7 linked regions of the Homo sapiens genome follow. The protein of the gene in region 2 purifies or fractionates together with the protein of the main gene of each other region. This does not show direct contact. Each region holds a gene or a part of one and is shown on either strand. Other genes may lie near its edges. The genes, in order: GPALPP1, PPID, MOB2, PSAT1, PKM, PTGES3 and GNPDA2.

Evidence for each region.
Region 1: the proteins of PPID (region 2) and GPALPP1 purify together in Homo sapiens (affinity purification with mass spectrometry; one study listed by BioGRID and IntAct). This does not show direct contact.
Region 3: the proteins of PPID (region 2) and MOB2 fractionate together in Homo sapiens (co-fractionation; one large-scale study listed by BioGRID). This does not show direct contact.
Region 4: the proteins of PPID (region 2) and PSAT1 fractionate together in Homo sapiens (co-fractionation; one large-scale study listed by BioGRID). This does not show direct contact.
Region 5: the proteins of PPID (region 2) and PKM fractionate together in Homo sapiens (co-fractionation; one large-scale study listed by BioGRID). This does not show direct contact.
Region 6: the proteins of PPID (region 2) and PTGES3 purify together in Homo sapiens (affinity purification with western blotting; 2 studies listed by BioGRID and IntAct, with this or other methods). This does not show direct contact.
Region 7: the proteins of PPID (region 2) and GNPDA2 fractionate together in Homo sapiens (co-fractionation; one large-scale study listed by BioGRID). This does not show direct contact.

Annotation. Positions count from the first base shown.
Region 1 is NC_000013.11:44,999,538-45,003,037, forward strand, and holds part of GPALPP1 (GPALPP motifs-containing protein 1), read left to right. Parts: intron 1-2,612; exon of another isoform or gene 2,613-2,910; intron 2,911-3,500.
Region 2 is NC_000004.12:158,713,397-158,716,896, forward strand, and holds part of PPID (peptidyl-prolyl cis-trans isomerase D), read right to left. Parts: intron 2,289-3,500; coding exon 2,166-2,288; intron 2,008-2,165; coding exon 1,901-2,007; intron 1-1,900. UniProt on the Homo sapiens protein: PPIase that catalyzes the cis-trans isomerization of proline imidic peptide bonds in oligopeptides and may therefore assist protein folding. Proposed to act as a co-chaperone in HSP90 complexes such as in unligated steroid receptors heterocomplexes.
Region 3 is NC_000011.10:1,476,780-1,480,279, reverse strand, and holds part of MOB2 (MOB kinase activator 2), read left to right. Parts: intron 1-3,500. UniProt on the Homo sapiens protein: Stimulates the autophosphorylation and kinase activity of STK38 and STK38L.
Region 4 is NC_000009.12:78,303,625-78,307,124, reverse strand, and holds part of PSAT1 (phosphoserine aminotransferase), read right to left. Parts: intron 2,391-3,500; coding exon 2,185-2,390; intron 812-2,184; coding exon 639-811; intron 1-638. UniProt on the Homo sapiens protein: Involved in L-serine biosynthesis via the phosphorylated pathway, a three-step pathway converting the glycolytic intermediate 3-phospho-D-glycerate into L-serine.
Region 5 is NC_000015.10:72,224,691-72,228,190, forward strand, and holds part of PKM (pyruvate kinase PKM), read right to left. Parts: intron 1-3,500. UniProt on the Homo sapiens protein: Catalyzes the final rate-limiting step of glycolysis by mediating the transfer of a phosphoryl group from phosphoenolpyruvate (PEP) to ADP, generating ATP.
Region 6 is NC_000012.12:56,667,785-56,671,284, forward strand, and holds part of PTGES3 (prostaglandin E synthase 3), read right to left. Parts: intron 2,581-3,500; coding exon 2,491-2,580; intron 1-2,490. UniProt on the Homo sapiens protein: Cytosolic prostaglandin synthase that catalyzes the oxidoreduction of prostaglandin endoperoxide H2 (PGH2) to prostaglandin E2 (PGE2).
Region 7 is NC_000004.12:44,706,057-44,709,556, forward strand, and holds part of GNPDA2 (glucosamine-6-phosphate deaminase 2), read right to left. Parts: intron 1,871-3,500; coding exon 1,696-1,870; intron 1-1,695. UniProt on the Homo sapiens protein: Catalyzes the reversible conversion of alpha-D-glucosamine 6-phosphate (GlcN-6P) into beta-D-fructose 6-phosphate (Fru-6P) and ammonium ion, a regulatory reaction step in de novo uridine diphosphate-N-acetyl-alpha-D-glucosamine (UDP-GlcNAc) biosynthesis via hexosamine pathway.

The sequences.
Region 1 (3,500 bases), on a different chromosome or scaffold from region 2:
TAGGGGGTCTGTATTGTGGCGTATACTGACTGACACTTTTAATATTCTTCTCTTTTTTCTTGAGACAGAGTCTCACTCTGTCACCAGACTGGAGTGCAGTGGCGTGATCTTGGCTCACAGCAACCTCCGCCTCCCGGGTTCAAGTGATTCTCCTGCCTCAGCCTCCTGAGTAGCTGGGACTACAAGCATGTGCCACCACGCCCAGCTAATTTTGGTATTTTTAGTAGAGATGGGGTTTCACCATGTTGGCCAGGATGGTCTTGATCTCTTGACCTCATGATCCGCCTGCCTTGTCCTCCCAAAGTTCTGGGATTACAAGCATGAGCCACTGCGCCTGGCCCCTTTTTTCTTTTTTATATCGCCATCTCAGTATTCTATCATTTCATGATGAAATAGTTGTTTATTTTGAACAACTCAAATAGAAATTAATGGTACTATGTGCTGAATGTTACTTTTTTATACTATTTTTCCGTGATTATTTTTAAAAGGCCAGGTTTTCTTAGATGAGTTTTATCTTCATCTGCTTATTATCTTTTTAAAAAATGTATATCTCGTTTGTTTCTTTAAAAATCCATGGCAATTTTTTAGTTGTAATAGCACCAGGTGTGGTGGCTCATGCCTGTAATCCCAGTGCTTTGGGAGGCCAAGGCAGGAAGATCACTTGAGGCCAAGCGTTCAAGACCAAGCTGGACAACATAGTGAGACCCTGGTCTCAAAAAAATAAATAAAATAAAATTTAAAAATTATCTGTGCATGGTGGCAAACACCTGTAGTCCTAGCCATGCAGGAGGCCGAGATGGGAGGATCGCTTGAGGCCAGGAGTTCAAGGTTACAGTGAGCCATGATCACTGCTTTCTAACCCAGGCAACAGAGCAAGACTAAATAAATAAATGAGTGAATGAATACATAAATAAAAGGTATGTGTGTACGTTATAATACCAAGAACAGCACATATTTAGACCATATTACACATCTAATTGCTTAAAATATATAAAAGAATAATAAAATTTTTTCTTGATACAAACCTATCCAAAATTGGCCAATAGTATACAATTGATAAATTACATGGATAGCAGTCACATATAAGAAGAGAAAGAAGCAGAAGAGGAAAAAACATATCTTCCCTCTTTAATGTACTTAGAATCAAGAAGATGAAAAGAGCCAATCACTCCTGTGGGGTCACACATGAGGTTAGAGGTCACATATAGTCTCTAAATTATAAATAAATTGGGGAACACTTACATACTAAGACATTAAGTCTTCTTTAGTAAACCCTAAACAGCAGTTGGAGATAGGAATCCCATCCATGATGCTTGATGTTTTCCTTTTTGCTGTAACGCAGCATGCCTTAGAGTTATTCTTTTCTAAGGCATGTTATTACCTGTTCTATAGTAATGCACCAAGAGAGATAGGAAAAATTTTTTTGAAATAGGCCAATGATTCCAAAACTAGCCTTAGTTTCTCCCCTGAGCTTTACACTGTAATAATGTTTGGCTATGTCCCCACCCAAATCTCATCTTGAATTATAGTTTCCATAATCCCTACATGTTGTGGGAGGGACCTGGTGGGAGGTAACTGAATCATGGTGGTGGTTACCCTCATGCTGTTCTCGTGATAGTGAGTTCTCATGAGATCTGATAGTTTTATAAGGGGCTTCTCCCCCTTTCTCTCTGCACTTCTCCTTCCTCCTGCCATGTGAAGAAGGATGTGTTTGCTTCCCCTTCCACCATAATTGTACGTTTCCTGAGGCCTCCACAACCATGCTGAACTGTGGCTCAATTAAACCTCTTTCCTTTATAAATTACTCAGTCTCAGGTATTTCTTCATAGCAGCATGAGAACGGACTTACACACCCTATACACCCTAGTATGCCCAAGTACCACTGATAGCACCACCTAAATTTTTAAGGCTGTATGAAACTTAAAATGTGAAAAACAAACTCTCAACTCTCCCCTCCCAGCCTATTTTCTTCCCAGCCTTCTCCATATTAGAGAATACCATTGCCCTTCACCTGCCTAGCTAGTCAGGCACAAAACCTAAGACCTATCCTTGGTTCCTTTTTTTTTTCTTCTCACCTCTAACATCCAAACCATTAGCAGTCCTCTTTGCCCTTACATCAGAGTATGTTGCAAATCAAACCTTTTTTTTTTCTTTCTTTTTTTTAGATGGAGTCTTGCTCTGTCGCACAGGCTGGAGTGCAATGGCGTGATCTTGGCTCACTGCAACCTCCACTGCCAGAATTCAAGCAATTCACCTGCCTCAGCCTCCTGAGTAGCTGGGATTACAGACGCACACCACCATGCCCAGCTAATTTTGTATTTTTAGTAGAGACAGGGTTTCACCATGTTGCCCAGGCTGGTCCCGAACTCCTGACCTCGGGTGATCCGCCCACCTCGGCCTCCCAAAGTGCTGGGATTACAGGCGTGAGCCACCACACCTGGCCCACACCATTTTTTATCAGCTTTCTAATGCATATCCCCTGTTGCTGATCTCTCTTGTCTATTGTCCACAAGCTGACAGTTTTTTGTTTGTTTGTTTGGTAATTCATATCATGTCTGTCCTGACCCACAACCTCCCAATGACTGCCTGTTGTAATTAAAATCCAAACTCCTGCTGGATGTGGTGGTGCATGCCTGTAGTCCCAGGTACTCAGGAAGCTGAGGCAAGAGGATCGCTTGAGTCCAGGAGTTCTGGGCTGTAGTGCGCTATGCATTCTGGTATCCACACTAAGTTCAACATCAGTATGGTGACCTCCGGGAGTGAAGGACCACCAGATTGCCCTAAGGAGGGGTGAACCAGCCCAGGTCGGAAACAAAGCATGTGAAAACTCTGGTGCTGATCAGCAGTGGGATCGCACCTGTGAAAAGCCACTGCACTTCAACCTGGACAACACAGTGAGATCTCGCCTCTTAGGGAAAGGGAACAGAAAAGGGAAAGGGAAAGAGAAGTCCAAACTCCTTATTGTAGCCTGTACTAGCATTTATTGAGCACTTGCTATATGCCAAAGACTTTGTTAGGTGTTTTGCATATATTAACTGATATAATCTTCACAACAGTCCTGTGAGGTTGAAACTATTATTAACCTCATTTTACAAAGCAAGAGTGTAATAGGAAGGTTAAGTAACTTATCCAAATCACACAGCTAGTAAGTGGCCAACCTGGAATTCAAAGCACAGAGTCTGCCTCCAAAGCAAGAGTCTGGCCCCTTTATACCATCCAACTTGATGTCGTCATTTTGCTTTTCTTTAGCCACACTGGCCTTTTTATTCCTCAAGCACATCAGGCTTGCTCCCTGCATAGGAGTTGTGCACTGGCTGTTCCTCTGTCATCTCATCATTTAAGTCTCCATTCAAATGTCTTTTTCTCAGAGAGATTTTTGCCTTACCACTGTCTTTAAAATTACCCTCCCACATATACAGTGTCACCTTTTTCCTATTTTCATAGTAGCATTTACACTATCTGAATTGATCTTAATTCTTTTAATGTTTGTTTCTCTAGAA
Region 2 (3,500 bases):
TTTAAAATTTTTAAGAAGGCTTAAAAAAAATTGTTTTTGTTCCCCAAAGTGTTCAAAGAGGCCAATTTAAGAGCAATTCCCAAATCTAATTATGCACTAGTAACACTTTTCTATTTTTAAAACTCAGGTCCCCACTATGTACTTTCCAACATAATTATGTTTGGAACCAGGATTCTCATAATAGGAGAAGGGAATTCAGTAGAGGAAAGATGAAGGAGAACTCTATTGTGTTGATTTTGCATTGTCCCTGAAAAGGGCCCCAAAACTGAGCACACCTGGCCCCCAGAATTTGGTTTCTAAAGTTTTCTTTCTCTAAAAGAAATCAGAGGTCCTTGGAGAAACTGCCATATCAGATGTGAAAGTAAGGTAAGATGAGCTTAGAGCAAGCAAGTGCTCGCAGACTAATAGGAACATGCCAAAGGAAAGGGGCCTTCCACTGAACAAATTTGGAACCCTTTGGGCATGAAAAAGAATGACAATAATAGCGTACTAACAAACGGAATTGAAAACTACCCATAAGATATCCTCTAGTCCCTGCTACTTGGGAAGGTGAGGAGGGAGGATTGCTTGGGCCCAAAAGTTCCAGACCAGCCTGGGCAATATAAAGGAGGCCTTGTTTCTATAAAAGGAAAAAAAAAGAAAAGAAAAATATCCACAGGTCTATAGTGATACTTAAAAAATATGCGGGAGGCTCTTGCAAACAGAAGAATGCTAGTTAATAACTGTACGATGATAAACTTAGAAGTTCAGTATAACAGATTCAGGCATGGATTTTCAATGATGCTAAGATCCACTGTGTGAAAAGTTGTTGGGGACTAGAAATTCATACAATTTCACGATACCACCTCAGACTAACAAATGCTTGTGGCTGACACTACTTTAACCATGTGTGTGAACTCAAACAGGCCAAAGCGAAATGTGTCTTCAGGATGTGATATCATAGGTAATACAAAACAACACCTAAGTCTTCTTGCCAAAATATTTCACCTCAAACTAATCTTAAGGAAACAAACACATACAGATGAAAGTCTATAAAAACAACTGACTTGGACTCCACAAAAATGCAAATGAATAAAAAACCAGGGGAGGTAGGAAACGTAAGAGATACTACCACTAAATATAACACATAATCTTAGTTTGGACCCTTGATTTTTCTAAGAAATTGAAACAACTGGGGAAGTTGGAATATGGATTACTTTTTTTTTTTTTTTTGAGACAGAATCTCACTCTGTCGCCCAGGCTGGAGTGCAGTGGCATAATCTCGGCTTGCTGCAACCTCCACCTCCTGGGTTCAAGTAATTCTTGTGCCTCAGCCTCCCAAGTAGCTGGGATTACAGGCGTGCGCCACCAGCCCAGCTAATTTTTGTATTTTTAGTAGAGATGGGGTTTCACCATATTGGCCAGGCTGGTCTCGAACTCCCGACCTCAGGTGATCCGCCCAGCTTGGCCTCCCAAAGTGCTGGGATTATAGGCATGAGCCACTATGCCCAGCCTAAATATGGATTGATATTATCTATCAATATTACTTTGGGGTGTTTTAACGGTATTGAACTTATGCAGAATGTCTTTGTTTCTTAGGAAATACGTGCTGAAATACTTAGGGTAAAGTATCACAGTATCAACAACTTCCTATCAAAATAGTTCTGTAAAAACGTAAACAGCAAAAGTTAAAAATTGGTGAATGTAAGTAAAACTTATGAGTAATTATGTACTACTCGTTCAACTTCTGTCTTTTGAAATTTCTCAAAACAAGCTGAGGGGAAAAAAAAGGAAATGCAACTATTTCAACACACCTGGTTATTCCACAAGTAATTTGCAAAAATATAATGAGCAATTCTTAATTTTAGTTTATAATTCAATTTATAATTTCTTAAAAATAATTTGTTAGAAATAATATTACCTTAAAACTTCTGCATATTTTTTAATAGCCATCTCCCAGTTCTGGGATTTGAAAAAAGTATTTCCAATGTTTTTTAAGTCTTCTGTTATTAATAAAATTTTATCTACCTGTATAAAAAAATACAAATATGTTGGATTTTAGTAAGTAATGTGGTTTAATGCTAGATTCTATCATATGAGAGACTGAAACAAAAGCTCAAACTTTTAGTACTAAATATTTTCACTTACTAAATTAATTAAAGTTTGACTAATCTGAAAGTACTCACATCTTTTAAATCTATATCCGCATCCTCAGGGAAATCTGGATGACTGTCGCCAGAGCCATCTTTTGGGAATATTCCCCCGTCATCTCCTTCCTTCAATTCTCCACATTCTGCAATAACGCACAACTGTAAAAATAACCCTAAATTGTAGAAGTGCACTATCGTAATAATGAGAGATAAAAGCTATACAGCTGAAGTCATGTGCAGCACTGTCCAATTCACAGATTTATGTGAGAAGGCTCATTTATGTACTATAATGCTGTTTTTATACATTCCAACTAATACGACAATGTTAGTATTTACATAAGCATTTTATTGCTATTCAGGAGCTCAATAAACACAGAATAAGTTGGCAATTTTATCATTGTCTATGTAAGTGGCATTAGGTGGGGCATGAGCTTCCGGTTTACTACTATTCTTGTCATACACTGAGTGACAGCCTACCTCCTACAAGTAACTGAGCTTCCAACTCCCACTCACAACCCTGTCACTTAGGCTGGGTAGTATTATGGTCGTTTAGGGGTTTTTCTTTTTTTCTTTTTTTTTTAATAGAGACAGCATCTCACTATGTTGCCAAAGCTGGTTTCCAACTCCTGGTCTCAAGTGATCCTCCCACCTCAGCCTCCCAAAGTGCTGGGATTACAAGCATGAGCTACCATGCCCAGCCAATATTAAGGTCATTTTGATTCACAGACATTAAGTACACAAGGGTCTTCAGAGATAATCTAGTCTAAACCCATAAGTAATTTAGACAGGAGAAAACACGTGTGGAAAAGTTAAGTAACAAAGTCAAGGCCAAGCCTCTAGTTAATGCTACAATCCAGACAAGATTTTGGGCTTATTATCCTCATTCCACTATGTACTACTATACATACCAACTGAACAGTTTTGCAGGTATAGGAAGACTTAACGTAAACTAGCAAAGATCACCAAATGAAAGTTGAAATAATAAAAATCTCCTTTAAAACTACCCTAATTGTCTTTCCCATTGTAGAAAAGTTAAAAAAAAAAAAAAAAAGTGGCAGATCCTGGCTCCTATACCCAAAATTATTATAACATTTTTCCAGCTAATAATCACCTGATCCTTTTACTTATATTTCTTTAAGATAGCAACTAACAGGCTGGGTGCGGTGGCTCATGCCTGTAATCCCAGCACTTTGGGAGGCCGAGGTGGGCGGATCACAAGGTCAGGAGTTTGAGACCAGCCTGGCCAACATGGTGAAACCCCGTCTCTATTAAAAATACAGAAAAAATTAGCCGGGTGTTGTAGCGCGCGCCTGTAATCCCTGCTACTCAGAAGGCTGAGGCAGGAGAATAGCTTGAACCTGGGAGACAGAG
Region 3 (3,500 bases), on a different chromosome or scaffold from region 2:
AGAAGTCTTGGCACAGGCCTTCCACAACATCCACCTTCCTGTGGAAAGGCCACAGGCTGGGCCAGTGGCCCAGCTACCCAGGTCCCCAGTGGGGCCCAGAAGGTGCAGGAGCTGGTGGGGGTTGATGGGCTATGTTTCTAGGGACAGAGACGTTTCCAGAAGGAATGCCCTAAGATTGCAGAGAGCCCTTCTCCGCTGGCTCCCGTGACAGCTCTGGATGGGACAGTGAGGGCTGGGCTGGGCAGGCCACAGGTCCTTGCTCGGCCATTCATTTCATGGGGGCTCAGTTACCTTCTCCGTGACCATCCAACATGCCTGGTGCTGGTAGCTCTCTCCTGGAAGCACTGCACCCTGATTTCCTCAGTAAATGGGTGTCCGTTAGTGGCCCTGAGCACCTCACTTGCGTAGCATGGGAAGGAGCGCCGCCAGGCCTGGGTTGCTGAAAGCAGCCTTGGAGGCTGCAGGCAGGAGGAGGCTGGGTCTGCTGGGCTTAGCCTGGGACATGTGCGGCTGAGGAGGGCGGAAGCTTTTCCCTGATGTCCCGTTGTTGTCAGTGCACACAGGTCAGGGACAGAATGTGTGCCTGTGAGTGCGTCCTGAAAGTCATCCTGCCCACAGACATGGCTTTCCTGGCCCTGGCACAGGGAGACGTGGTCCCCAGACAAAGCTGAGTTCTGCCTTCAAGAAGCCAAGGGGAGCTTCTGCACAGGCAGCTGGCAGGCGTCCCCTTGGCTTCAGTCCTGCTGGGCCCTGCCCTCATGGCCATGATGGGTCACAGCTTGGTTTGGTTATGGGTGACACCGGGGCAGGTACAGACAACAGCTGGCTTCACTGTCTTAATTCCCCAGGAAAATGAGGTGTCACAGCCAGGCATGGCCCAGGAAGATGGGGACAGTGCTTATGGCTTTGAGGGGAGCAAGCTCAATGTGAGACGGCGGTGGCCTCCATGGATCAGGCATGGAGATGGGTCCTGAGGTGGCAGGGCAGCACCCGAGAGCTACTCGAGAGCCTTGTGTCCACTGTGGCTCTGGAGCCACCTGTGGCCAAGTGCTGGCTCAGCGCCTCTGCTCCTGGGCAGACGGGGCCTGGCACCCTTCCCAGAGGCTCTGCTCCTGCATGTTCTGTGGTACTGGGTTGGTTTGGAAAAGGGGTCCTTGGAGGAGTGTAGGATGTGGTGTTGGGCAGACCTATGTCCCCTTGGAGGGCCTAGGCCACCCAGATTTGCCTCTTGGTCCTTCTCATCTGGAGCTGGCATCATGGTGGTAGTAGATGTGTGTGAATTAATTGCATGTAATGCCTTTCCAGGAATCCTTTCAAACCAAGGGACAGAAATCCACTCAAACTAAGAGAAACATGGAGACTTCTCAGAGGGCCTCAGGGCCACTTGCCACCCAAAAGACCAGCAAGTCTGCCTGGGTCGTGTGAGGGCTCTGGGATTGAGGCGCGTCTCCTCCCTGCTAGGGCCTGTAGGACAGTCCCAAAAAGGCTGATGTCTGACTCCTAGGGAGACGAGAAAGGGGGCGGGGCCGGAAACACATTGCAGCAATAATGGCTGAGAACTTCCCACAAAGACACAAACCTGCAGACTTAAGAAGCTAAGCAAACCCCAAATAAGGCTCACAGACACGTGCAGATGCATGCAACCAAATGCTGAGAACTGGGGGCAAAGAAAAAGCCCTTGGCAGCCATCCTCTGTCAGCAGTCAGACGGCGGTGGCCTGGTACTGACAACAGATGCCGCAGTGAATGACCGTGGCACTTTTAGAAACCCAGGAGGCCAGAAGGAAGAAGGAAGCCCCACACATCTTCCAGTGCTGGGAGAAAAGAAAGGTCATCCCAGAATTCCACATCCAGTCAGTGTCCAAAGTCACTCAAAACCAAGAGCCCTCACAGCCAGCAGACCTGTTCCAGAGGCTCCCTGCAGAGTTCTCCCAACAGGAGGGCCTCCTCCCACTGAGTGTTTGTGGAGACGCCAGTGATGGTGCAAGAAGACAAGAGTAGTGTCCGGCAGTGCCTGTGCAGTGCCGTTCCCAGGGCGGCCGTGGGGCCTGTGCAGTGCCATTTCCAGGGCGGCCGTGGGGCCTGTGGTGGCGGTGGGGCTGTGGCGGCTGTGGGGCCTGGCGGCGGTGGGGCTGTGGGCAAGAGAGCTGCTATGCTCCAGTGGAAGCACATGTGTGGGTGCCATGGAGAGCATGTGGGGTTGAGTTGCGTGTTACAGCCCTTTGAGCAGGCCTTGCAGAGCTTATGTGAAGAGACGCAGTCAGAATCAGAATAGGTAAATTTAAATGAAATACAAAAACATTTCAGTGGCCCAAGAGAAAGCAGGAAAGAAGAAATACCATAAGGAATGAGAAACAGAGGCAACAAACAGCAAATAGTGGAAAACCTAAATGCTAACAGATGAACAGACGGGACTGGGCAGCTTATGAGAATGTATTTTTAAAATAACCAACTCTCTGGTGTTTACAAGAAGCTCATTTGTTGTATTTCATTCGGGATGCTGTCACGAAACATGATAGGCTAGGTGGCTTGTGAACAACAGAATCTTATTTCTTGCGGTTCTGGAAGCTGAAAGTCCAAGGTGAAGATCCACTGTGGACCAGGAAGGGGGCACTGACCACGTCACTGGATCTGATTAGCCAGATTCAGTGTCTGGTGAGGGTCCCTTTCCTGGTCCACAGACAGCACCTTCTTGCTGGAAGGAAGGCAGGGCGACGGAGCCACCAGTTCTGTTCATGAGCGTTCTACCCTTGCAACCTCATCGCCTCCCAAAGGCCCCATCTCCAGATACCCTTGCGTCTGGGGTTAAGCTTTCAACATAGGAATGTGGGGCATAAGCACCCTGTGTGTCACACCACTCTAGGTGCTGTGGTGCAGGCGGGTGAGAAGTAAGAGGACAAGATGTGCTGAGAAAACACCCATCAGAAGGAAGCGGAAGTGGCTATGTCAGTGCCAAAGGAGACTCCGAGGAAGGAAGTGACCAGGAATAAGAAGGTTATCTAATTAGAAAAGGAGCAGCTCTTGAAGAAATCCTGCCATAAATGTGTGTGCGCCAGACAACAGGGCTTTCCACACAAAGCAAACGGACGGCCTGTGTAGAAATCACATGATCGCCGGGGATTGCAGCCCTCTCCTCAGTGATGGAGCCTCATAGACAGTCAGCGAGAGCACGGAGCCCGATGACCCCACCCGTGGGTTGGATTGAAATGACACATGCACTGCAGCCTCAACAGCAGAACACCCATCTTTTCAACTTCACAAAGATTAGCCACCAAGATGGAGCATACCTGTCACAAAAGAGCCCTTAACAAATTTTAAAAAATCAAAACCATACGAAGTAAGTTTTCTGACCATGGTGGGGTTAAATTAGAAATCAGTAACAGAGAACAGGAAAGTCTCCAAACACTTGCAGACTAATACAATTCTGAGTAGTCCATGGGTCCGAGAGGATGCCTCAACAAAAAAACTTTAACAAACTGTACACAGGAAAATACAGCATGT
Region 4 (3,500 bases), on a different chromosome or scaffold from region 2:
CCTGCACAACAATGTGAATGCTCTCAATGCCACTGACCAGTATATTTAAAAATGGTTAAAATGGTATATTTTATATTAAATGGTAAAATTTGTTATATTTTATCCCAATTAAAAAGGCAGAATACCACTCAGTCAGTTCAACTGTTGTTCTTAGATTCTCTACCCGCATCGCACCCTGGGGCATGTACCTACAGCGCCAGTCCCACTGCCCTGCCTTGGCAAGCCACTCATAAAACGGTATCCTGTTGATGCTTTTGGAGGTGGGTACCAGGCAAGGGGAAGCTCCCTCACATAGGTCCCCTGGGCTCGGGATAATCTGCATCTGCTCTTGAAGACAAGTCTCTCCCCGTCTGTTGACCAAACACGTTTCTAAGAACCACTCTCAAAAGCAGGTAGTTCCCCAAGGACTCGAGTGGGACCCTGTGAGGCAAACATCACCACGAGGCTGGGAACAGCAGGACTCAGGCACTGCAACAGCTGGGAATTCGCACCTGGCAGCCTGCTCACTGGCAGCTGCACTGGCTCAGGGGTTCTGCAGGCCTCAAACACCCATGGTTCTTCCCGCTCTTGTATATATTAAAATGTCCCTGCAGACACCGAGTCAGTGGGTTCCCCTCACCCTGCCTTTTATACTCTACCTTGGAAACATCCACTGGCTTGGACAGGAAGTTTGAGGACATGTCACAAACCAGTACTGCTCCCTTGACATCGGGTATAAAGTCAAACTCCACACCATGCACCGTCTCATTTGCGCAATAATACACGTAGGAGGCATCTGGGTTGAGGTTCCAGGTGCTTGGATCTGGAATTTCTATCACAGAAGACAAGTTTGAGACTTTGCACTTTTCACTCTCCTCTTTCCTTACATAGATGGGAGTCAACCAGGAGACTGACAGGCCTCCCCTAGCAGGGAAAGACTAACTGACTCCAAAGCATTGCACGAGTGAAAGCAACCTCCCAGCCTCATCCTTTGTTACCATCGTTATCAACATCCTGAGAGGATGAGCGATCCAACCTTTCGACTTTTACTGGGAACAAATCATCTTCAAAAATGGCATGGGAAGGTGGGCATGGTGGTATGTGCCCATAGTCCCAGATATTTAGGAGGCTAAGGTGGGAGGATCACTTGAGCCCAGGAGCTGGAGGCTACAGTGTGCTATGATCCTGCCTGTGAAGAGCCACTGTACTCCAACCCGGGCAACACAGAAAGACTCTGTCTCAACAAAATAAAATAAAGTAAATTTTTTCAAAAGGCATGGGAGATATCTGAGTTTTTACTTGTCGCCCAGTATCCATCTATCCTACATCCATTGATGGACTAGTAGTTTCTTCTTGGAACCCCAGCCCTCACCTACTCTCAGCCCACGTAGTTCCAGGGGAGCCAATGAAACCTACAGCCCAGAGGTAGAATGCAACTCAGGCATGGCCACAGGGACTGATTCAGAATGGGGCACAGGACATGAGACCGTTACTGGGAATGCTCCATAAAGGCATTGAAACTTGGGAGAATATAAGGTCAGGAGCAGCTGCAGCCACCTTTCAAGAAAGGGACAGCTTTTTCTGCCTGTGGAGCCACCAGGTCCTGGAGACATTGTTGGGGCCCCTGATCAAGCCATATCTAAAGCCAAACCAGCCCCTGGACTTTTTCAGCTAATTAGCTGAAAAACTACTACTAACTACTGACTAGCTTCTGCAAGAAGAGTATGCATAGGCCAGGCACAGTGGCTCACGCCTGTAATCCCAGCACTCTGGGAGGCCGAGGCAGGCGGATCACCTGAGGTCAGGAGTTCAAAAGCAGCCTGGCCAACATGGTTAAACTCTGTCTCTACTAAAAATACAAAAATTAGCCAGGCGTGGTGGCCAGCACCTGTAATCCCAGCTACTTGGGAGGCTGAGGCAGGAGAATCGCCTGAACCTGGGAGGCGGAGGTTGCAGTGAGCTGAGATTGCACCACTGCACTCCAGCCTGGGTGACAAAGCAAAACTCTGTCTAGAAAAAAAATAGAAAATAAAATAAAGTAAGAGTATGCATAGGCTCTAGTCTTAGCTAGTACAGCCACCCAATCTAAATGGTAATGAACTAACACTGTCAAGGGGAGAAAATAATTGAAAACTACAGATTGCCCTGGGTCGGGGTAACCCACCATTGAGCACGTCACCACCCAGCTCAGCTCCCAGAACTTACTTGTATAACTCCCAAGTTTAGGGTGAACGATATTTATAGTCCCAAACTTCTTGGCTTCTTCTGCGGCCTTAGCTGACCAAGCTCCTGTCACCACATAGTCAGCACACCTTCCTGCTTTCAAGCCAATGAGGTTTAAGGGGACAGCACTGAACTGGCCGCACCCACCTCCTTGCAGAAAAATCACCTTATAGTTGTCTGGAACAGCTCTGGGCAGAAGCATAGGTAACAGTCAATACATAAACTCATGTGGTCAAAGATTGAGAACAAGTGATGCTCTACCAAGTGCTTTAACTTGGGTGGATTTACTACAAGAAATATGGTAATGTTACAATACTACTTTGTCTTCCCTAATTCACTCATTTATTTATGCAATCCTTGGACAACTATTTACTGGAGACTGTGTTGAAAGCCTAGGGTTACTGTTTGACCTGAAGCTCTTCCTCCTCTTCTTAGTGACAACAGCCTGATGTTCCTTTAGGAAATTACCCCTCTGCCACTCTCAGTCGACATGGTTCAACTGTGGTCAACCCTGGCTCAAGGGGATGAGTACCTGCCCCAGGCTGGCCAATGGAATTTGGTACTGAGACCTTTACTCAAACTTCTAGGTAAGGAAAGCTGTTTCTATTGAGGGAAAGAAGAAACTTGTAGGAGCTAATCCTGCAACCAATGGTGGCCACCCAATGAAGAGAACACATAAGAAAGCAGAGCCAGAAGATGGGGGAAAATCACCTTCCTGCAGTCATTTAGAAGCACCTAAATTCTCCTGCATTTATCTGTTAGGTGAGATAATACATTTCTTTTTTACTTAAGCCAGTGAGTTGGGGGTCCTATAACTTGCAACCAATAATCCTGTGTTATGCAACATGCTATGAACCAGGTGGATGTTGGGCAGGGGGTTTCGATAATGTTTTAGGCCTACCCATGAAATCATGTATCTATTATACATCAAAATAAAAAGCAAAATTCTTTGACTCCAGGATGAAAAAGTAAGATAATGATGAGAATGGCTACAGGCAGTAGAAATAAGCCCAGCTCCAAAAGGACAAGGCCATGGAAACTGGACCCAAGCCACTGAGTAAGGTCAGAGCCTGGGAATAGGTGTACGGAAGCCAGATGGCCAGGGAACAGAGCTCCAGCAAAGATACAGAGGTAAATTAATAAAGGGCAGGGCAATGTGGCAGGGTCTTGGGGAATGGGGTGGTAGGAGTGTAAATATCTTGTCCTGAAAGATGTATGGCCTATATTCAGTGCTTAGTAGGATAGCAAGCAACCAGCAGGTCTTAGGAGACTCTGGCCATGAGGTTCTTAGCAGCTGG
Region 5 (3,500 bases), on a different chromosome or scaffold from region 2:
CATCACTACTAAACATACAAAAATTAGCCAGGCGCGCACCTGTAATCCCAGCTACTTGGGTGGCTGAGACACAGAATTGCTTGAATCCAGGAAGTGGAGGCTGCAGTGAACGGAGATCGCACCACTGCCCTCCAGCCCGGGCAACAGAGTGAAAAACTCTGTCTCAGAAAAAAAGGAAAAAAAAAAAAACACAAATAAAGGCTGAGCTGTATTTTCTTTAATTTCTTTTTTCTTTTTTTTTTTTTTTTTGAGATGGAGTCTCGCTCTGTTGCCCAGGCTGGAGTGCACTGGCGCGATCTCAGCTCACTGCAAGCTCCACCTCCCAGGTTCAGGCCATTCTCCTGCCTCAGCCTCCTGAGTAGCTGGGACTACAGGCGCCCGCCACCAGGCCCGGCTAATTTTTTTTTTTTTTTTTTTTTGTATTTTTAGTACAGACGGGGTTTCACCGTGTTAGCCAGGATGGTCTCAATCTCCTGACCTCGTGATCCGCCCACCTCAGCTTCCCAAAGTGCTGGGATTACAGGCATGAGCCACTGTGCCCGGCCCTCTTTACTTTCTAAAAACAAAAACAAGAATTTTAATTTTATACAGTTCATTTTTTCTCCATCCCCAAGCTCCTCCAACCCTTTCCACCTCCATCTTAAACTTTTTTTTCTATTTTATTTATTTAAATAGAGATGGGAATCTTGCGATGTTGCCCAGGCTGGTCTCGACCTCCTGGCCTCAAGTGATCCTCCTGCATCAGCCTCTCAAAGTGCTGGGATTACAGGTGTGAGCCACTGCTCCCAGCCACATCATGCATTTTGACACCCAATCACTGTCATGAACTCTATATCCTTCCAGTTCACTGAAGTCTATGTACAGTGTATCTATGTCTATACTGAACCCTATAATATTGTGGTTTTCTTAATGCCCTAAGTGGTATACTGTATATATCACTGAGTAACTTGTTTTTCACTCAGCAGCACATTTAAGATCCATCCAGTGGGTATATGGATCTAGCTAATTCATTTAAGCTGTTACACTAGTCCACTGTACAACAGACCATTTTATTTATGGACTGTCTTACTGGTGGCCACTCTCCCTCCCCGTTAAACTAAGTTTCTTCTATTAATCAATACTCTTGTAGTACATGTCTCCCTGTACTGTGTGAGTTTCTATATATCCAGAAATTGAAGTCTTAGGTCATGGAGTATGTTTATTTCTATTTTTACTAAATAAGGCTGAATTGCTCTCCAAAGTGGCTATATCAATGAACGCTGAGTTGCTGCCTTCCACACCTTTTTCCACACTTGGTACTGCCAGACTTTTTAAATGTTTGCCCATCGGTGACATTTGTTTTTCTGCTCATCTAATGTTAATAACCAAAGAGGGATACCCAGATAGTTTCAACGTTTACAACATCTCTATTTCCCTGCTTAACTCAATCAAATCTCCTCTGAAATGGCATGGTGGACACAGTGTGTCTTATGTGCCCTGACTGACTCCACTGATGGGCAGTTCTTTTTCGTTCATGGCCAAGGGAGATATCAGTTGTTTAAAATTGAAGAAACATGGCCAGGCGCGGTGGCTGATGCCTGTAATCCCAGCACTTTGGGAGGCCAAGACAGGTGGATCACGAGGTCAGCAGACTGAGACCATCCTGGCTAACACAGTGAAACCCCGTCTCTACTAAAAAATACAAAAAAAATCAGCCAGGCGTGGTTGCGGTTGCCTGTAGTCCCAGCTACTCAGGAGGCTGAGGCAGGAGAATGGCATGAACCCGGGAGGCGGAGCTTGCAGTGAGCTGAGATTGCACCACTGCACTCCAGCCTGGGTCATGGTGCGAGACTCCGTCTCAAAAAAATAAAATAAAATAAAATAAAATAAAAAATGAAGAAACATTATCTGCAAGTAAACTGAAGATGTTTGGAAGGGATAGGACTCCCTTCAGAGAATCTTGACTGCAGTATTCAGCCAGCAGCTGTGCTGGTCCACAGTGTGAAATGCTAGGACTGGCAACCTCACTGCCCTTGAATAACTGGTCTTGGCATCTCTCCCACTGCAGCCCCAGCCTGCTTCCAAGACTGCTTGCTGGCATGAGGAAAGAGGCTTAGGGCTCCCCAGGAGCTTTGTCTATGGACAGAAGTGGGGGAGGTGAGTCTCAGAGGCCACCGAAGGTACTGCAGCCGGCTTGTTCCCTCCTACGTGCAGACAAGCACAAACCACTGCAGGGGCGGGGCTTCACCGCACTGCATGGTAGGGGCCCTAAAGCACCCAACTCCTGAGCTGAGCAGTCATACCAAGAGGCAGGAAGGCCCAGCAGATGCTGCACATCACCCTCCACCACTCACCCAGGCTCACCTTCCCCCAACAGCTTCTTTAACAAAGTCCCAAGTATTTAAATTACTCAATTATCCAGTCTGCCCCTTGGTAAAAAAATGCAAGCTCCCCGCAAGTATGGTGGTATCAAAAATGGTCTTCATATATCTGGTTGTTTAGCTCTATTCCCATCTGTATCAGAACTGATGCTTAAAGGGACAACTTAAAATCCTTAAGACCTCATACCAAATAAACCAATCTCACGAAGACCCTTGAAGATGCAATAAAACTCTGCTCACAGGGTCAACGCATTCTTGTGTTATACCAGCTAATTGAGATTTGACTGTGGACTTTTGGAGTGATTCAGAAAGAAGGGTAATGTCAAATGAGTCATTTTCCTCTACTCCGGTCTCAGTCTTAGCTCTTGGCCAAGATAACACATCCTGACTTGCCTTCATAAAAGCTGAAGCAGGCCAGGTGCAGTGGCTCACGCCCGTAATCCCGGCACTTTGGGAGGCCGAGGCCGGTGGATCACCTAAGTCAGGAGTTCAAGACCAGCCTGGCCAACATGGTGAAACCCCATCTCTACTAAAAATACAAAAATATTAGCTGGGCGTGGTGCAAGTGCCTGTAATTCCAGCTACTTCGGGAGGCTGAGGCAGGAGAATTGCTTGAACCCAGGAGGTGGAGGTTGCAGTGAGCCGAGATCACACCATTGCACTCCAGACTGGGCAACAAGAGCAAAACTATCTCAAAAAAAAAAAAAAAAAAAAAAAAAAAAAACAAAAAACTGAAGCAAAATAAACTAAAACCCAAGTAAAGTGAGTTTGTAATGTAAGTGCTGCATTTTCTTCTACCTTCCTGCCCACGGCCGTTTCCTCATTTCTTCCATTGCCTCAATATTAAGAAATAAACAGCTTTAGGAAATAAAATGGTTTTTCCTGTGACCCCACATCAGTGTCACAACATTCAAGGCACAGAAGCAACTCCCATAAAGTGCTAGCTGTTTAGAGTCACCGCCACCAAATTTGCTAAGTCACTGGGGGTACGGTTCTTAAAGAGCTAATGATGCTCTTTGCTAAAATATGAATACAACATTATTTCTAATGCAATGCTTAAAATGAAAGCAGTTGTGCTAGACAGGAGACCAACATCCATACATTTTGGCTCAAGTCAGTAACTGAGAAATGAGTTCAAGA
Region 6 (3,500 bases), on a different chromosome or scaffold from region 2:
TTAACAATACTGTATCATGCACTTAAAAGATAGCTGGGCGTGGCCAGGTCTGGTGACTCATGCCTGTAATCCCAGAACTTTGGGAGGCCAAGGCGGGTGGATCACCTGAGGTCAGGAGTTCGAGGCTAGCCTGCCCAACATGGTGAAACCCTGTCTCCACTAAAAATACAAAAATTAGCCGGGCATGGTGGTGGGCACCCGTAATCCCAGCTACTTGGGAGGCTGAGGCAGGAGAATTGCTTGAACCCAGGAGGTGGAGGCTGGAGTGAGCCAAGATCGTGCCATTGCACTACATCCTGGGCAACAAGAGCAAAACTCTGCCTCAAAAAAATAAATAAATAGTCTGTTAAAAGAGTAGATTTCATGTGAAGTGCTCTTACCTCAATTAATTAAACACACACAAAAAAGGATTCAGTATAAAAATTTTGGGCAATCTATCTTGAATGAAATGAGTAACTGGGAGTTTCCCTACCTCCAAAAGCACTACTCAATACTTTAAGTTTCTTTGGGCAGGAAAAATGCTAAATGTACCAAGCATAACGCTACGTGCTTAAGATAAACAGCAAGAGAAAACTGTACATATTCAAGAGATATGTAAGAGATAACAACAAAAACTGGACAACAAAGATAGCAAAATAAAACAAAAAACAAAAAACAAAAACAGTGTTATAAGGCTGGGGGTGGTGGCTCAGGCCTGTAGTCCCAGCACTTTGGGAAGCTGAGGCAGGAGGATCACTTGAGCTCAGGAGTTCAAGACCTGCCTAAGCAACACAATGGCTTGCACAGCTAGGTAAATGGTGGCACCGATTTCTACAGGTAAGGAAAGTACAATTAAAAAATAATATGAATAGAACATCCTCCCTTCCTGTTGAAATCACCATGCCAGAGTCACGTGTGGAGAACTGTTAAATAAGCAGTTGCATAAAGCTGGAAACTTAGCTCCTTTTATTTAACTCTTAAGGTCTCAAAATACAAAATCTAGTTAATGAAAAATTTCAAATAGCAACAAGAAATGGATTTCATCAGTATGCATTCGACTTATACACTAATGTTCTTTCTGTACTTAGTTTTATTCTACTACATTTGATAAAGTCTATTCTGCCTATATAGAGATGAATCATTTATTCTTGGGCCATGGCAACGTTATTTGGGTGACATCTTAGAAAACAGACTTTCTTAAACTTTTTTCCTTGTATATCTCATGGTAAACATTTCACCATGAATTTTTTTTTTTTTTTTTTTGGAGACAGAGTCTTGCTCTGTCGCCCAGGCTGGAGTGCAGTGGTGTGATCTCGGCTCACTGCAACCTCTACCTCCTGGGTTCAAGCAATTCTCCTGCCTTAGCCTCCGGAGTAGCTGGGATTACAGGCGTGCACTACCACGCCTAGCTATTTTTTTGTAGTTTTATTTAATTATTTATTAATTTAGAGACGGCGTTTTGCTCTTGTTGCCCAGACTGGAGTGCAATAGCGATCTCGGCTCACCGCAACCTCCACCTCCCGGGTTCAAGTGATTTTCCTGCCTCGGCCTCCCGAGTAGCTGGAATCACAGGCATGCACCACTACGCCCAGCTAATTTTGTTCACGCCTTCTGGGTTCACGCGATTCTCCTGCCTCAGCCTTCTGAGTAGCTGAGATTACAGGCGCCCGCCACTGCACCCGGCTAATTTTTGTATTTTAGTAGAGACGGGGTTTCACCATGTTGGTCAGGCTGGTCTTGAACTCCTGACCTCAGGTGATCCGCCCATCTCAGCCTCCCAAAGTGCTGGGATTACAGGCGTGAGCCACCGCGCCCAGCCTATGATTCTTGTGTTTAACAGTTTATCGTTCTGCATTTATTTATTTATTTGACCGAGTCCCGCTCTTTCGCCAGGCTGGAGTCCAGTGGCACGATCTCGGCTCACTGCATCCTCTGCCTCCAGCGTTCAAGCAATTCCCGTTTCAGCCTCAGGAGTAGGTGGGACCACAGGTGCGCGCCACCATGCCCAGCTAATTTTTTTTGTATTTTAGTAGAGATGAGGTTTCACCAAGTTGGCCCGTATGATCTAGATCTCCTGACCTCGTGATCTGCCAGCCTTGGCCTCCCAAAGTGCTGGGATTACAGGTGTGAGCACCGTGCCCGGCCAAAAGTTTATAGTCTTATTTTATGACTTCAAAATCCAAGTCAACTACTGCAATCATGCTTTAAAAAAAAAAAAAAAAAAAGTCCCAATGATGAAATTAGCAAACTAGCTGTGTTAGTTTGTCTTAATGCATTAACTTTTGTAACTTTTGTAGCTAACACTAATTCCTTTTAAAATCATTAAAATGGTTCAACTTCAGGATTAAAATTGCCATTGTTAACATCTATTTACTATGACTGCAAAATGGTCTTAAAAATAAAATAACATGCATCATGAATACCATTAGGTGCCCAAAACCATATTAAATTGACTACATAGACAGGTACCGTGTGCTTCGAATGGGGAGAGGTCCATTTAAAGGAACTTACCTCAGAGAAACGATCAAAATTAGACATGTCTTCATCTGAATCATCTTCCCAGTCTTTCCAATTATTGAAGTCGACACTAAGCCAATTAAGCTATAAATCAATACAAATATCACCCTAAGATTAGGCTAATTTGCATTTGGCATGAACCTTAAGACTACGTTTTCTTTTCTTCTAAAGAGACCAGGTCTTGCTATGTTGCCCAGGCTGGAGTGCAGCAAGCATTCACAGGTGCAATCCCACTATTGATCAATATGTGAGTTTTGACCAGCTCCGTTTCTGACCAAGGGTCTTGTTTACCCTCTTCAGGCAACCTGGTGGTCCCCGCTTCCTGGGACAACACCGTACTGATGTTAACTTAGCGTGGTTACCTGACATATGGCAATGCAACCCAGACTTGGGCGCAAGTATTTCTCCCACTTCACCCTCCAGAGTAGCTTTTAACTACAACAGGCACATGCTACTGGTGCCTGGCAAAACAATATTTTTTGAACTGTGACTTTGTATTTTTAGGAGGGCATGTAATTAGCACACAAAGAATAGACTAAGCTAAATGAGGTGGCTCACACCTGTAACCCCAACACTTTGGGTGGCCAAGGTGGAAAGACTAGTTGTGTAATCCTTCAGGAGTTCGAGACAGCCTGAGCAATAGTGGATCCTGTATCTGGGGAAAAAACAAAAAAACAAATTTCCTGGGCGTGGTGGCACATTCCTACAATCCTAGCTATTTGGAGAGGTGAGGTGGGTGGGAGGATCGCTTAAGCCCAGGTGGAGGCTACAGTGAGCCATGTTCACACCAGTGCACTCTGGCATGAGTGGCATGAGACTACCTAAAAAAAAAGACTAGGCTGGTGTCGTGGCTCATGCCTGTAGTCCCAGCACTTTGGGAGGCTGAGGTGGGGAGACTGCTTGAGCCCAGAAGTTCAAGACCAAGCTGGGCAACACTGTGATACCCCTTTCTACAAAAAATACAAAAATTAGCCAGGTGTTGTGGCATGCCCCTACAGTCCCAG
Region 7 (3,500 bases), about 110 Mb from region 2:
GCCATGTTAAATGAATCTCCTTAAAACTGGAATTAAAATTTGTGGATAGTGAGGATTCCTTGTAGTCAAGGAATCTATTATTTGGGATGAAATCTGAAGGGTTACATGGGAAAATAGAGTTAAAACTCCATCAAATGCTCTTTTATTCACAAATCAGAAATTTTTCAGTTTTTCAGTTTTTCAGTTTGATATATTTGTGGCTTGGTAAATTAGTAATTTAAATGGTAAAAATATAAATGACTAGAAATAATCTAAGTGTTAATAAGGAAATGTTTAAATAAATTATGATTTATGTACTTAACTATCCATTAAAATGCTTCCAAATATTTAGTAAAACAGGAAAATGCTCATGAAACATAAGTACAAATACAAAACTATATACAAAGCATGATCAGCATTTTGTTTAAAAATAGACTATTTTCAGTGCTTGCCAAATGTCAGTTATTTGTATAACACCTTCAAGATATTTGCCATATTCACACATATACATGAAATATGAGTTGGTTTTCTTTGCATTGAATTAAAAATTTAAGATTATATACTTTATTTCTGAGTATGAGATGCTATAAATTGTAAGACACACCATTTTATGTACCACTGAGAAAAAAATGCTACCCAGTAAGCTATGATCTGACACCAGTTTTAAGACACAGTCCAACATCAGCAAGATCAACGTGTATTAGAGCCAATCAAATATGGTAGCTTTTTTGGACCTTGTCTTAAGCAATAATATCCAAAAAATATAGCTTTGATTTATTCAGTGTATTTTCCAATAGGCATTAAAATAAATACCTAGTTACTAGAGTAAAAAAGATTAAAAGGTATAATCATGTAGCAAAAGTAGCATACATACTACATAGTGAATCACTGACCTATCTATATGATCAACTATGTAACTTTTAATATCAGCTATGTAAATACAGGTGCTTTATGAAAATTACCTGTTTGTACAGTTTGCTTACATATGTGTAATATGTGGAGCTGACTCTTAAATCAGAGAATAGGTTCTACATTGGGTATAGGCAAAATGTCCCTTGAAAATCTCTTAAAACCATTATATCAAGCATATGTGTTTTGTAATACACAGCCTGGTAGAGTAAGGTTTCTGAATTACTGAACTAGACTACAGGAAAAAGGAAAATCAACATGAAGTCTGGGCAATCAAACTCCTGCTTACTTGCAGAGTTTATTCCATACTATTTTAACATTTAGACATTATAACTTTAATATATGGGAATAAATTGGCTTAAAATTGTAAAGATTAAATTAGATAGTGGGAGATCTCTTATCCACTGATTAGGTTCTAAATTAAGGTTAGAGGGGAGTGAGGAAGAGGGATTGAGGTGGGACTAGTAAACATGAAAAGAAATCCAGAATGGACAAAGATACATTTTCTTTTGGGTTATTTGGTCTTGTATATTCAATATGAAAGTAAATTATTAAACCTTGGATTTCAAGAAAAATTGTTTACTGAAAATAGAGACTGAAGAGATTCTCTTCATGAAAAAAAAAAAAAGGTACTACTTTGAAGATACTATTATCTGAGGTGAGAACTTTCCATTACTTGAAAGAACTAGCTATGTGTTGCCACTTTTCAATAGGTCACAGTGTGAGATTTAACCCCACAGTCACAGTAAGTTTTAATTGTCACTCACAACAGATTATCTCAGTCGGCTTTTGAAATTCAGTGCTCACCTTTAAAGTATTTCACAGTTTTAACTCTTAATTCTAAAGTAGCATCTTCATCGCATACAAAAATAGTCCGGGGATGCTGCTGGAAAGCGGAAACAGTCCACATGTGATTGACTCCTTCTTCTATTGCTTTGTACAGGGCAAATGCCTTGTGTGCCCCTGTTATAAGGATCATTACCTGAAAAATTATGAACATCAATTGTTAAAACTTGTTCCAAATGAGTAAGAAGCTCTATTTTTTTTAAACGAGAACTTAAGCACCAATATTTTTTTCTGAGAGAAAGAAAAATACATAGCTCCACATAATAGTTCAAGGTATTCATTTCTACTTTTTAAGATTAACAAGCACAAAATGTTGCTTCTAGTTTAACAAAGCAAAACAATATCTTGTTATGGGTTATTAATGCAAACACTATAATACCTGTAACTTTTAACATAGTGAATGATGATGTATAAAAGAAACCTGGGACAATGAAGAAAAAGAAACAAAAGGACTGTGTTGCAAAAGCAGAGTTACAAATCTATAAATAATTTATACAATCTAGAATGATACACCAAGTTGCTGTAGTCTAGATAAGCAAAAGATACTATGTCAGAAAAGCAAAGACTCTAAAACAACAGGTAATTTGAAGAGTTATCAAGAAAAGCCTGAAGAGCATTTCACTGAACATGTGCTATTCAAAGTTGACTCAGAATAAAAACTGGATTTAAAAAAGGATTAGGGATCTACTTAAACATAGGAACTGTCTTATAAGCACATAGGAACTGTCTTATAATCACATATGACTGATATTACCCTTATAAGCTACAGAAAATCCAAGCTCTTGGTCCCCAGGCCCTAAATGCCAATGAAATAATGCAATGACATGTTGCAAATGTGAATGTGTATGTGTCGGAATCTTTTCTTTATCATGTTTAAGCTGGAAATTGATCCCATTTAACACCTCATCTACACACATATTTTTGTAATATAATCTTTAAACTTTTTTTCCTCATTACAATTGTTTTAAAAAACAATGTTAAAATTGCTGTAGTTCTAAAATATAACAAATTTTGTATTACATATTTTATAACTAGACCTAAAATGGGAGGAAATACTCTGCACTCTCCTTGAATTACCTCAACTCCTCAAAACACCACCATGAGAGAAATACTATTCTTACTCATATTTTAAAGATAAGGAAACTGAGGCATATTCTGTAACTGGCCCAAGGTTTTGGTAAGATACAAACAAGTAGTTTTTTTCTACAGTGCATATTCTTAGCGATTAACAATTACATTACATTGCCTCTTGTAAAAGTTCTAACAATTAGACAATATGAGCTAAGAGTCTTTTCATTATGGATGCACACTCTAAAAAGGTAATGGGACAGGTGGCAAGAAATCTCAACATGAAGTATATATACTGAGGAAAAAAAAGACAACTAAACTTTTATTGGTGAGAAAAGGTAAGTACATACCTGGCATTACCATTATGAAGGGAGTGGAGGGAAAGGAGGCTGCTGGAAGGGAAGCTTAGTATAGGATGAAGAATTCATTATTGGTGTTTATCTATGGCTAAGGCATAGATAAAACAAATTGGTCTTTAAATAGACTTGATCTGATATGTGATTAGTTATATCATACCTGTTCTACTCTCAAGGAGATTATTTCTCATATCATGGGAAAGGACAAACTATATGGAATAATTTGTTATGTTTGTTCAAACTGCAGAATCCCTAAATTTAAAGAAGCAAGCTAGGTGTGGATACCAGGTGATTCTTATGTACACTAATGTTTGACAACCAGTGCTCAGGCAGATGTTGCAT